3 separate regions of the Homo sapiens genome follow, and regions 1 and 3 are each reported to be linked to region 2. The links are microRNA targets in miRTarBase. Many come from high-throughput screens and were not tested one by one. Region 2 holds a microRNA gene; each other region holds the end of a gene's coding sequence.
What was found. Region 2 holds the annotated microRNA hsa-miR-4524a-3p (UGAGACAGGCUUAUGCUGCUAU, at 2,835-2,856, opposite strand). A microRNA usually pairs through its seed, bases 2 to 8, with sites in the 3' UTR of a target mRNA and lowers its output. Matches are read on the target gene's strand: a 7mer-m8 pairs with bases 2 to 8, a 7mer-A1 pairs with bases 2 to 7 and ends in A, and an 8mer does both.

Region 1: miRTarBase lists RABGEF1 as a target of hsa-miR-4524a-3p. Seed matches in the 3' UTR shown: 7mer-A1 at 876-882.
Region 3: the mRNA of COX19 is a reported target of hsa-miR-4524a-3p. Seed matches in the 3' UTR shown: 7mer-m8 at 2,689-2,695, 7mer-m8 at 2,569-2,575, 7mer-m8 at 548-554, 8mer at 384-391 and 7mer-m8 at 34-40.

The regions. Positions count from the first base shown.
Region 1 is chr7:66,808,642-66,812,705 of GRCh38, forward strand. It overlaps RABGEF1 (RAB guanine nucleotide exchange factor 1), which reads left to right. Exons shown (of 9, transcript NM_014504.3): 9 at 245-2,823. The coding sequence ends at 643. It also overlaps the pseudogene GTF2IRD1P1. Among named protein-coding and RNA genes, the nearest start is that of RABGEF1, 70 kb to the left of the region's middle.
Region 2 is chr17:69,096,736-69,100,803 of GRCh38, forward strand. It overlaps MIR4524A (microRNA 4524a), which reads right to left and starts at 2,897; the gene lies at 2,829-2,897. ABCA6 (ATP binding cassette subfamily A member 6) reads right to left here. Exons shown (of 39, transcript NM_080284.3): 22 at 4,062-4,068; 23 at 1,185-1,292; 24 at 1-66. It overlaps MIR4524B (microRNA 4524b), which reads left to right and starts at 2,807; the gene lies at 2,807-2,921.
Region 3 is chr7:965,790-969,853 of GRCh38, forward strand. It overlaps COX19 (cytochrome c oxidase assembly factor COX19), which reads right to left. Exons shown (of 3, transcript NM_001031617.3): 3 at 1-3,667. The coding sequence ends at 3,589. Among named protein-coding and RNA genes, the nearest start is that of COX19, 7.7 kb to the right of the region's middle. RefSeq lists enhancers at 1,281-1,781, 1,782-2,282.

The DNA.
Region 1 (4,064 bases), not on the chromosome of region 2:
CTTCATGGTGCACCTGGGGAGGCTGCACCCAGACATCGGCCCTGGAGCTCCTGGGAGTGTATAGGAAGCACGACCGGGGATAGGAGTAGGTAATTTTTGAGGCTGAAATACACAGAAGTTCATGAGTTTGTTTTGTTTACTTTAGCTTCTGTTTTAAATGGTCTGTGATCAAAAGATTTTTACAAATCGACTCGAGTATGCATAGCTTTCCTAATATGACTGTATTAACGTCCTCTTCTTGTAGTGCTGTGCTGTGGCTTTCATTGAGAAGCTAGACGCCCAGTCTTTGAATCTAAGTCAGGAGGATTTTGATCGCTACATGTCTGGCCAGACCTCTCCCAGGAAGCAAGAAGCTGAGAGTTGGTCTCCTGATGCTTGCTTAGGCGTCAAGCAAATGTATAAGAACTTGGATCTCTTGTCTCAGTTGAATGAACGACAAGAAAGGATCATGAATGAAGCCAAGAAACTGGAAAAAGACCTCATAGATTGGACAGATGGAATTGCAAGAGAAGTTCAAGACATCGTTGAGAAATACCCACTGGAAATTAAGCCTCCGAATCAACCGTTAGCAGCTATTGACTCTGAAAACGTTGAAAATGATAAACTTCCTCCACCACTGCAACCTCAAGTTTATGCAGGATGATCACAATTTAGTGGAGAGTATTTATTTGAGCCTAAATTGTAGGTAGCCCTTACTACACTCAACTGATTGGGATCTAGAATGTAACTAAATTGCTTATAAATGTCAGCATTTTTTAAAGGTACAGTATATGGGGATTGTTTCGTTTTTCCTAGCAGGGGAACCTTAGTTAATAATAAAATACTACTTATTTGAGTTACTGATACAGATTCATTTAAGGCTTGTGTGCAAATTTTGTCTCAATCTTTTTTCCCTCCATGATTTTCCTATGTGCTTCCTCTGGCATTCACTGTGGTTTTGGTAAATAATTGCCTTTTAAAGGATTAAACAAATGAATGCTACAAAGTGTATGTTCAAGAAAATTAAATGGTACCACTCTTCCACAGTTTGGAATAATTTTATAATTGTAAAGATAGAAATTATATTGATAAGTAAATATGTAAAATTGTAAATATGTAAAAAAAAGAATGGTGTCTGCTGTGCATGGCATTTTATATGTTAATTTTTTAGTTTAAAATGAAGTATATTGAATGTTTGCCTTTAGCACCATTTTATTTGGTTTGTCCCACTAAAATGACTCGAGAAGTGTTTAGACAAACTCCCCTTAAGATGTGCACTCCATCTTTAAGAACGTGTTAGCCTTAACTTTGAGGTTCTATATAGTCAGAGACTATGACACCACTAAGGTTCAGAATAAAGTTTAGGCCACATAAAATTGCTGTTTAATGTAGTCGATGGAAGACTTTAAACTATGCTTCTAGCTTATTTTTCCCTCATTCATTCAGCAAATCTCTATTGAGTTCTTCAGTGAGAAGGAGCAGGCACTGGGCCTGGAATGGAAGGCGGGAATGAATGGGCCTCTGATGGTGAGAGGTGACGGGGTCCCTCAGCTGTGAGATGCAAGGGGCGCCTTGCAGCCTCCATAATATACATTTGACTTTGCAAACGTCTAGACATGTTTTCTGAACCTTTTTCAGGACATTTCAACCTCGGGACTATTCATATTAGTGGCCTGAGAGGTGTTTGTTGTGGGGCCACCCTGTGCATGGTAGAATGTTCAGCAGCATTCCTGCCATCCATATCCATTAGGTGCCAGTAGCACCCCCGCTAGAGCTGTGAAAAATTCTCTCCAGACATAGTCAGATGTCTCCTGGGGCCATATCACCCCTCCGTTAAGAACCACTGATGTCTTTTACAAACCAGGAGTTATCCTCCTGGTGGTTAATATGGTGTAACCAAAGAATCTTGCACTCAATGCACAGTGTGATGTTAACTAAAACGAGTTAAATATTTAGGAGGCTTGACAGCTACCTGCATTGTAGAACCTTTTCTTATCTCAGTGGAACCTTCTATAACCTAAATATACCATTGATGATTCTTCTTCCATTCAGTGACATCCACAGATTATGCAGCTATACTTGTGAAATCGTGCATGAGGCCCCAGGGCACCGTTCTAGAACAACGTCACTTCACACAGGCAGCTGAGAAAGGTTCTCTTGCTTTTCCAGTATCTTCCTAAGGATGGAGCCCAAAATTGCAGAGCAGTAACTTTGGAATAAAACCAGGGTGGGTATAAAACTTCTTATTCTTAAATTTACATATAAGATCTATTAAGCTTGACACATCTGTGTCATCACGCACTGAAGACAGGAAGCAGTTCACTGAGTCAGCTGGTTCCCAAGCTCGCACAGAAGGTGATAAGTTACTATCAAATGCCAGTGAGAATCTTCTTATAGAATAACCTGGGCCCAAGTGATTTTAGTACAAAACTTGCCCTTCTTTGGTTTAATTTTCTATGTGCTTTTAGGTGTGAATCCAGATATGCGGTCTTAATTCCTTTGGAAATACACAGTTCGTTTAGTTACTGTACACTCTGTTTGTTCAATAAACTGCATATCAACTTCCCACAAAAGCTGACTTTTTTGGGTCTCTTACATATAAAGTAGGTTATTGAGTTGATTTTTTTGGAGGTATCTCATATTGGTCGAATTCTTCTGGTATGGACTCTTGCCTTATATAGAGGCTTCTATTTCTCTTAAGTCAGCATCAATACAACGGCCGGAGTTTCTGTTTTTGCAATAAGAAGATGTTGGTATTTTATGTAGGGTAAATGTGACTGGAATACACCTTTGGAACGGAATTCTTTATCAATAAAGTTTCACAATCCGTCCCTCTTCCAAAAATTGATTTGGTTCTTTCTTAGGAAAATATACATTATTATTAATATTCTCATGCTACAGAGGTTTTCTGGTTAAGCTATACCTAAAAATGAAACATTAGAGACATTTGTCAGTTAAAATTAAGAAGACAAGAATATTTGCTGTCACCACAATCAATCAACCTTGTTCTTGCAGTTCTACCAAGGTACTCAGTCTTCAAACAGACATAAAAGTAGAGAAAAAAGGAGTTAATGTAATCAATATAGAGCTATTATTGTCTGTTGGTGAGGACATGAACTCTGAAGCTGGAAGGCTTGGATTTGGTTTTGAATTTTATTCTGCTACTTATTAGCTCATTGGCCCTGAACAAATCTCTTGTTTCAGATCCCTCAGCTGTGAAATGGGGTTAATAATATTACTGCTTCATGGGGTTGTTGTCTGAACTTAGAACAAATGATAGCTATTATTTGTAGATGGTTATTTTATGTAGAAAACCCAAGAGAAGGCTGGGTGTTGTGGCTCACGCCTGTAATCGCTTTTGGAGGCAAGGCAGGAGGAATGCTTGAGGCCAGGAGTTTGAGAGCAATGTCAGCAACATAGTGAGACCCACATCTCTACAAAAAAAAAAAACACTAGCTGGGCATGGTGGTGTGTACCTGTAGTCCCAGCTACTGGGGAGGCTAAGGTGGGAAGATCACCTAAGCCCAGGAATTTGAGGTGGCAGTGAGCTGTGATCTCACCATTGCATGCTAGCCTGAGTGAGACCCTGTCTTGAAAAACAGAAATGTAAAAAAAGAAAACCCAAGAGAATTTATATTGAAACTATAGAATTTCATCTCTATATTAGTGAAAGATGAAAATTCTAAAATAGCGATAAAAGCTAACTGTACAAAATGATTTTCCTATATACCATTACTAACCACTTAGCAAACATTGTGGAGAAAAAAATCAATTTACAATAGAAACAAATATAAATCACCTACAGAGAACAAGAGCTTTCAGGATCGATACGAAAAACAGAAAATTGAGTGAGAAGCACAAAGGTGTGACTGCAAAGGGCCCTGTGCTTGGACTTTAGGGCTCTGTAGCTGCCATCGTGAAATTCTTCTTTTTTGTTTTTGTTTTTCTTTGGGCTGGGGGGTATAGGGTCTGGCTCCGTAACCCAGGCTGTGGAGTGCAGTGGTGTGAACATGACTTACTGCAGCCTGGACCTCCTGGGCTCAAGCTAGCCTCTCGTCTCAGCCACCTGAGTAGCTGGGACTACA
Region 2 (4,068 bases):
TGCCTGCCCACACCAGTAAGCAGAAGTGTAGAGGCCTGAAATCCATAGCTGGGACTTAGCATTTTTCTGATTAAAAAAAAAAAGAAAGAAAGAAATGTATATAGATTCAATTAAAATGCAAATCTAAAATAAACACAAACACATTGGAAGAATTTTTAAGATAAATATAATCTAATCTTCTAATATTAAAAAAAATTATGCATATACTGCTTAGTAACATGAGGCTTATAGAGCCAGTTCCATGGTTTACAAGGTGTCTATCAAAAATAAAATGTATACTGTGATAGGCCTGACTCATAACACAACTTTAGCTCATGAATAATGAAAAGTGGACCTCATAATGTTCAAGGCATTAAACTCTATAAAAATAAGTATTGGCCAGCATGGTGGCTCACGCCTGTAATCCCAGCACTTTGGGAGGCCAAGGCGGGTGGATCACAAGGTCAGGGGATTGAGGCCATCCTGGCTAACATGGTGAAAGCCCATTTTGACTAAAAACACAAAAAGTAGTTGGGCATGGTGGTGCAAGCCTGTAATCCCATCTACTCAGGAGGCTGAGGCAGAAGAACTGCTTGAACCCGGGAGGCGGAGTTTGCAGTGAACCGATTTTGCACCATTGCACTCCAGCCTGGGCAACAGAGTGAGACTCCATCTCAAAAAAAAAAAAAAAAAAGTATTATTTTGTGACCTGGAGGACATAATACATTTACCTTTACCTAAACATCTTGGAGAGTTTCTGGCTCAGGATGGTGAACGTTGATAGATTTAACTGCTTTGTCTGAATAATGGGCATAATCGAATACAAATATAACATAAAATTGCAATTTCCAGAGTGGAAAAGGAATTCAAGTCTTAAATTTGGCCTTTGATTTCAACATCAATGATTTCCTTCTTGTGGCTGGGAAATAATGTGGTCAAAAGATTTATAATATTTCCCTTTGAAGGTTTAGACTAATTGGAGTCTCTGAAAAATCACTGTACTTTTCAGGTGACTTTGGAATAAAAAGCATTTTGAGTTTTTAGAAGTAAATTATCTGACTTGCCAAGAATAAGGTTTAGCTACAATATCTAAATTAAACATACATTCAAATGTTTTTGTCAGAAGAAAACATTTTGAACACATAGCATTCAAAATACAGATATTGAAATTCCTGAAATTTCTTCTTTTCCCTGCTTTTTCTTACCTTGTAATCACTGATGCTGCCCATGGTGATATAAGGAGAAATGCTACATAGAACCAAAAATAAGAAAAAGGAACCATCCGGCAACCCAGTCCAGAGTCCTATGTGGCTCTGAAAATATAAAGGGTAGCTTAAACTAGTGAATATTTGTTAAATGAAACAAATAATTATAGCCACAAAAATGCACTTTTTGAAATGTTGAAAAATCAAAGTAAAGGTGTAGCTCATTACCATCTAGGCACGAAGGTGGGAGGGAAAGTGACTCTGATCTTCAACTCAAAGAACAAAGAGAAGTCAAAAGTCATTTAGGACCTACTTCTGGGGATATTTCCAAAAGAATTGAAAGCAAGCTCTCGAAGAGATACCCTCACATTCATATTCATACCAACAATACTCACAAGTGGAAGCAACCCAAAAGTCCAAATTAATGGATTAACAAAATGTGTATGTATATACAAACAATGGATACTATTCAACCTTAAAAAGGATCACTTGAGGTCAGGAGTCTGAACCAGCCTGACCAACATGGTGAAACCCCATCTCTACTAAAAATACAAAATCAGCCAGGTGTGGTGGTAAATGTCTGTAATCCCAGCAACTTGGGAGGCTGAGGCAGGAGAATCGCTTGAATCTGGGAGGCAGAGGTTGCAGTGAGCAGAGATCGCCCCATTGCACTGCAGCCTGAGCAACAAGAACAAAACTCGGTCTCAAAAAAAAAAAAAAAAAAAAAAGAAGGAAATCCTGTCACATGCTACAACATAGACGAACCTGGAAAATATGCTAAGTGAAATAAACCAGTTACAAAAAGACAAATATTCCACTTATATAAGGTTTCTAAACTAGTAATATTCATAGAAACATAATAGGATGGTTATTTCCAGGGGATGGGGGAGGGGGAAAGCTAATTGGCATCGAGTTTCAATTCCGCAAGACGGCAAAGTTCTGGAGATGCATTTCACAACAATGTGAATATACTTAATACTACTCAACTGTACACTTGCAAACAGCTAAAATGGTCAATTTTATATCATGTATTATTACCACAACAAAAAAACAATAATTCAGAAGTTAGGACCTCTGATGAACATATAATTCAGGCCTGAGTAGCACGTCTTTCTGAGCAAACCCAGAGATGGAAACCTCAGTAGCTGGGTGGATGTGTTCTGAAGCACAGAACCAAGAAGAAAACTTGTTGCTGCTTGTCTTAACTTCAGGGAAAGGAACTTTAAATCACTACCCCCAAATCAGCATCCACTTGAGGCTAGGCCAAGTGGACACTCTAGCAGCATCTAGGACCACCTCATGGATATAATTACAGGATAACAGCATGAGCCTGTCTCAAAATAATTCCACAATTATTTAACTTTATTTAAGACTTTGAGGGCTATGTCTATAAATTCTGTTTTTCATCATAGGAATGAGGGAGGAAAGGTGTGTGCCATGGGGAAGTGGGAGTGGGGAACAGGTTTCTAATAGAGTAGCTATGGGCTTCAGTCCATTTTGATCCTGAGCAAACACAATGGCATTAGGAAGCTAATAATTCAGAAGTTAGGACCTTTGATGAACACATAATTCAGGCCTGAGCAGCATGTCTTTCTGAGCAAACCCAGAGATGGAAACCTCAGTAGCTGGGTGGATGTGTTCTTTTGAAGGATAGCAGCATAAGCCTGTCTCAAAATAATTCTGCAGTGAGACAGGTTCATGCTGCTATCGTTCCAAAGAGGAAGGGTAATCACTGTCTCTTTCTGCTACTCCTCTGGTTCCACTTTCTGGAGAATTCCCTTCAGACACCCCTTCCCTCGAGTCATCCTGTGCAGCAGACCTGTTTACGTGATCAGTCGGTCATACTCAACTCACGGAGGTATGTGTCTGTCACGAACATCTCAAGTACTGTATATTTCATCCCCATTGTTCCCATGGCTTACAGAAAACCTGTGCTTGCATATACTCCCAGCACCACTGATTCAGTGAAGCCAAAACTGAGCTTCACACTTTTGTCACAAAATGGACTTCCCTTTGGATGGCTTCATTTCTAATCCTGCTTCTTGATGTTTCAGACTTCTGGTGTGAAACAGTTGGAGTCAGCTTTGAGACACCCCTGTTGGTATCAGGCAGGGTCTAACCAGAAAACCATGACTACGTTAAGTTCTTAGAGTGCAATTCCTTATGACATGGTTAGGTGGGTGATGAGCATCCCACAAAGATGGTGAAGTGAGAAGCAAGCTATTGTTGCTTCTGGGCTTCAGGAACAGCAGAAGGAGGTGATGTGACTGGAGCCCAATGTAGGGGGTCCTCTGCTCTTCTGTCTCCCACCACTGCTTTCTAGTGTCCAAACTGTCTGAAGCCAGACTATAGCCAACTGACACAGAATCCAATGCAGCCTGTGTGTATTAGGCTCCCTCACAACATAGAGCAACTATGAGTAGGTGAATAAATAAATCAACAGATAGCCCCAGAACTGGCAGATTCTCCTTCATATTAGTCTGTCTACTACACATTTAGTCAATGGAGGGTCCACTAACTAATTATAATAGATTTATATGTAACCAGGGTTACAAGTTCTCCTGATTTCCAAGTCAGTGTTTTCTTTTTTCTGTTTCTCTTTCTCATACACTTCCACAATCAAGTATGTACAACTTTTCAAAACATTGCCTAGAAGACTGACAAAATATTGAAAAGTATTCCCTCACGATAATTATCTGATAACTTGGCAGGAAAAAAAAATCCTGTTTTGTTTGCTATAACCCATTGAAAATATTAGGATAAAATAATAATTTTCAGGCTTAACAATCACTTATGGATATTTAAAAGCTAAAGAGAGAAAACATAGGCTATTTGTCCAATTCTTAATTGTTTAGACTCAGTAAATCCAATACTTACAAGAGGA
Region 3 (4,064 bases), not on the chromosome of region 2:
CACCAGCCCCAGCTAATTTTTGTATTTTTAGTAGAGACAGGGTTTCTCCATGTTGGCCAGGCTGGCCTTGAACTCCTGGCCTCAAGTGATCTGCCTGCCTCGGCCTCCCAAAGTGTTGGGATTATAGGCGTGAGCCACTGGCGCCCGGCCCGCTGAGGGTTGTAATCTGCACCTGTCACCAGTGTGGTTTCTGCAACAGCAGTTTCCTGTTCCCAAAATTTCTTCTATATTAGAATTAATAAGACAGACCTGGCCCTCCCCCCACTGACATGTTTACGCAATTACTTATGTTGTATAGACTACTGGATATCAATTTATTCTGAGGGCTACAGCCCATTACAATAATTAATTTTCTTTCTTTTTTTTTTTTTTTTTTCCTTTGGTGAGACAGGGTCCGGCTCTGTTGCTCAGGCTGGAGAGCAGTGGTACAATCACAGCTCACTGCAGACTTAACCTCTGGCTCAAGTGATCCTCCTGCCTCAGCTTCCTGAGTATCTGGGACTACAGGCGGGTGACACCACGCACGGCTGACTTTTCTTGTTTTGTAGAGACAGGGTTTCACCCATGTTGCCCAGGCTGGTCTTGAACTCCTAGCCTCAAGTGATCCTCCCACCTTGGCCTCCTAAAGTGCTGGGATTGCAGGCGTGAGCCGCTGCGCCCAGCCTGTTTATTTTCACGCTCACACTGCCCCAGGCTGGCCACCGTATGCTCCTTCCCATCCCCCCGTGTTATTTCAACAAGTCTCCTCATCCCAGCAATTCTTCACTCTCTAGCTCATCTGATACCTTCTCTGGCCTGGCCCTGGTTCCTTTTGGTTACAGAATGGTATCAGGGCCAAGACCCTGAGTGCACGGGTCACTGCGTCCAGGCCCTCAAGAGCTGGGAAGCATTTGTGCACAGCCCCTCACAACAGTCCCCCTTACACACGGTTTCAGTTACCCATGGTCAGCCACAGTCCAAAAATACTAAGTGGAAAATTCCAGAAATAAACCATTCATGAGTTTTTGATTCTGTGCTGTTCTGAGCAGCCGTCCTGCTGGGACATCAACCCTCCCTCCGTCCAGCGTTTCGGGCCATCCACGCCACCCTGCCTGCCAGGCACTCAGCAGCCATCTCGGTGATCAGACCAGCCATCGCGGTGATGTGGTGCTTGGGTCCAAGAAGCTTTTATTTTACTTAAGAATGGCCCCAGAACAGGACAGTGGTGATGCTGGCGACTCAGACACACCAGAGAAGCTGCCAAGCGCTTCCTTTAAGGGAAAAGGTGGAAACTCCTGACCTATAAGAAAAACAGCCAGATGCCGAGGTTGCTAAGATCTCCGGTAAGAACACAGTGCCCATCTGTGACATTTTGAAGAGGGAAGCACGAAGTTCTGTCAGTTTTGCTGTCACATCTCAGACTTGATCACAGGTACGTACAGGAAAAAACAGCGCCTGGACAGGATTCGGGACTATCCGCGGCTTCGGCACCTGCTGGGGTCTCGGAGCACACCCTGGCCAGGTGAGGGCGATCACTCCGTTTCTCTATCCAGTTACCTTTGTACGTTAGAAAAGCAGGAGCTCAATACACCTGGCTCTCATCATCCACGATGTATTTCTAGTTTTTTCCATCTCAGAATACAGCTTCAGAATCGTCCACGCAAAAAACAAATTTACTACTTAGAGTACAGTATCTTTCCTGTCTTTCCCACCTTTGGTCGACGGTCTTCCCCACACTCCTGATGGGTCAGAGTGCGGTGCGAGCGGAGAGGCAGGCCCGACCCGGGCCTGGGCACTCCCGACGGCGGGTCAGAGTGCGATGGGAAGAGGCCCCGGCCTGGGCCCGGGAGCTCCGTCGGCATGGTCTGTTGTGTTCCCCTCACATCCTGGTTCATTTACTTTTTGAGCATGTGAAACCCTCTGCCATGACAGCCAGAACTCCACCCCCAGGGGTGCTCGGAGGGGCTCGCGGCCGGCTATGCCCATCAGTTCCAGCTCCTCCTTCTGGATTTCTCGTTTGTAGTTTCCTGTGTCCCTGCCTGTCTCCACTTCACAGTAAGCTCACGCCATATAGCCGCACTGCGTTGGCGAGCTCATGGCACGTGGCCACACCGCGTCAGCGCCGACTCCACGGTGGCTGCGTCACGGCTCACGTGCACTGTGAGGACACTGGGGTTGCTATAGACAGTGCTGGGGCAACCCTGTGCCTACACAAAATATTCTAATAAGAAACAAGACTTTCCATCAACTAGCGGTGATATGTTAATACGTCTGCAGCACTCAGAGGCCTGACAGAGAGCAGACACGGGACAGTGACAGCTGCAGCCGAATCAGGTGGTAGAACCCATGGGTGCAGGGACACAGGGTTGGGCGGGCCCAGCCGCAATAGGTACTCAGTTCTGTGAGGAGGGGAGGGACATGTTTAACCACGAAAGGGCCACCACTGCAGGACAGAAACAGAGGGCCTTTGCTGCAGAGAACTGGAGATGGGCTGAGAAGCCTCAGCCACCCACAGGCAGAGGGACGAGGGCAGCCTGTTTCCCAGAGCCTGAGGTCGGCCAGATTGGTGGCCCCACCTGCCAGGGCTTGGAGACAGCCACTGCCAGGGTCGCCAGAGAGGACGTGACCTGGACCTCCCCACCCCGTCTCCTGCCACCATCCTCCACTGACCAGACAGGAGCCAGCCCCTTTCCGACAGTGCCTGGGAAGGAGACAGGTCTGGCTGAGGCCCCAGATGTGCAGGCACCTGCGTTCCATCCACAGGTTTGGGCCCCGGCTGGCCTGACGCACTGGGTGGACATGGGCCGGGTTTCCGTGACCCACAGGCAACTTTGGCACAGACGGGCTGAGAACTCCGCTCAGGGCCCCTGCCAGGCTGTGCTGCGAACACGTGCCGGGGTCTCGGGCGGAGCTGGCTGGCACAGAAGACAGCTGGTGCGAGCCTAACTGCAAATGGACTCAGGTTCTTTTTCTGTTAAAATACAGGAGTTACTGAAATTAAATACCCAACTTTATAAATACGGTCTGATACAAACCAGAAAATGACCCTTTGATTATGAAGCTACTTGGTGTTCAGGCAAAACCAGAAAGAATCAAGAAGTCAATCCATCCAAAGCCAGAAGGTTCTCACTTCCTACTTTGTGTTCCACTTTTTTTTTTTTTCAAAGGAAATGAACTGGCATATACGAATACAAACACGAAAACATCCTGCTAGGGAATGGTAATTTTCTGATGATATCTGTGTTCAGAAGGGACTGAAATTTATACATTTACCTCTTTGAACTCAGAAAGTATCAGAGGACTGCAACATAAAACCGCCCCATACAAGAGGGCCCCGGCCTCGAAGACAAGGGTCTTGCCCCACGCTCGCCTCCCTCCCAGCTTTGCCGGGAACGCCGTCCCACTCAGGGGTTCAATGCAGAAACACCCTCCTAAGGGAAAACGGGACGCCACTCCCTACCCAGGAGACGCCCCCACAGGGCTGGAGCTTCTATTCGAAGCCCATTTCTAAGGACACCACACGCAGGCCTCAGCCAACCTAAGAGGCAGGATGATGCCCTCCGTCCTGAGAGACCACTGAACACGGCCCAGGGGTCTTCTCATCAAAATTCATTTTTTTGCCTCTGATTTTCCACTAGTCAAGTCTCCAAATCCCAGTTTCTCCAATGGTTCTTGTAGCATCAATTTTCTAAAAGAAAAAGAGAAAGCTGTCAGGGCGGGAGGTGCAGAGAGGACAAGAGGGGCCCTTGCAGGCCCCGGCTTCCCAGCGCACACCGGGGGTCCTGCCACCTCCATCTATGTCCTGGGAGAGTGGCCCCTCGGCCTCGGCCCCCGTGGCTGGTGCCTTCCCCACTGGGCAGAGTCAACAGGACAATGAGGACATGACCACCTAGAGACGTCCCAGGGCCTAAGGCCTGGGGCCTCTTGGGATGTCCAAGAGGGGCAGCTGCACCCGCTGCCCCCAGCACACAACACTTCCCCACGTCCTGCTAAAAGATGTATCTGGACAACAGCTTCACGCTGACCTCTCAGACTTGCTTTGATTGGCAGGATAATGACCCCTAAAGGTGTTCACGCCCTAATCC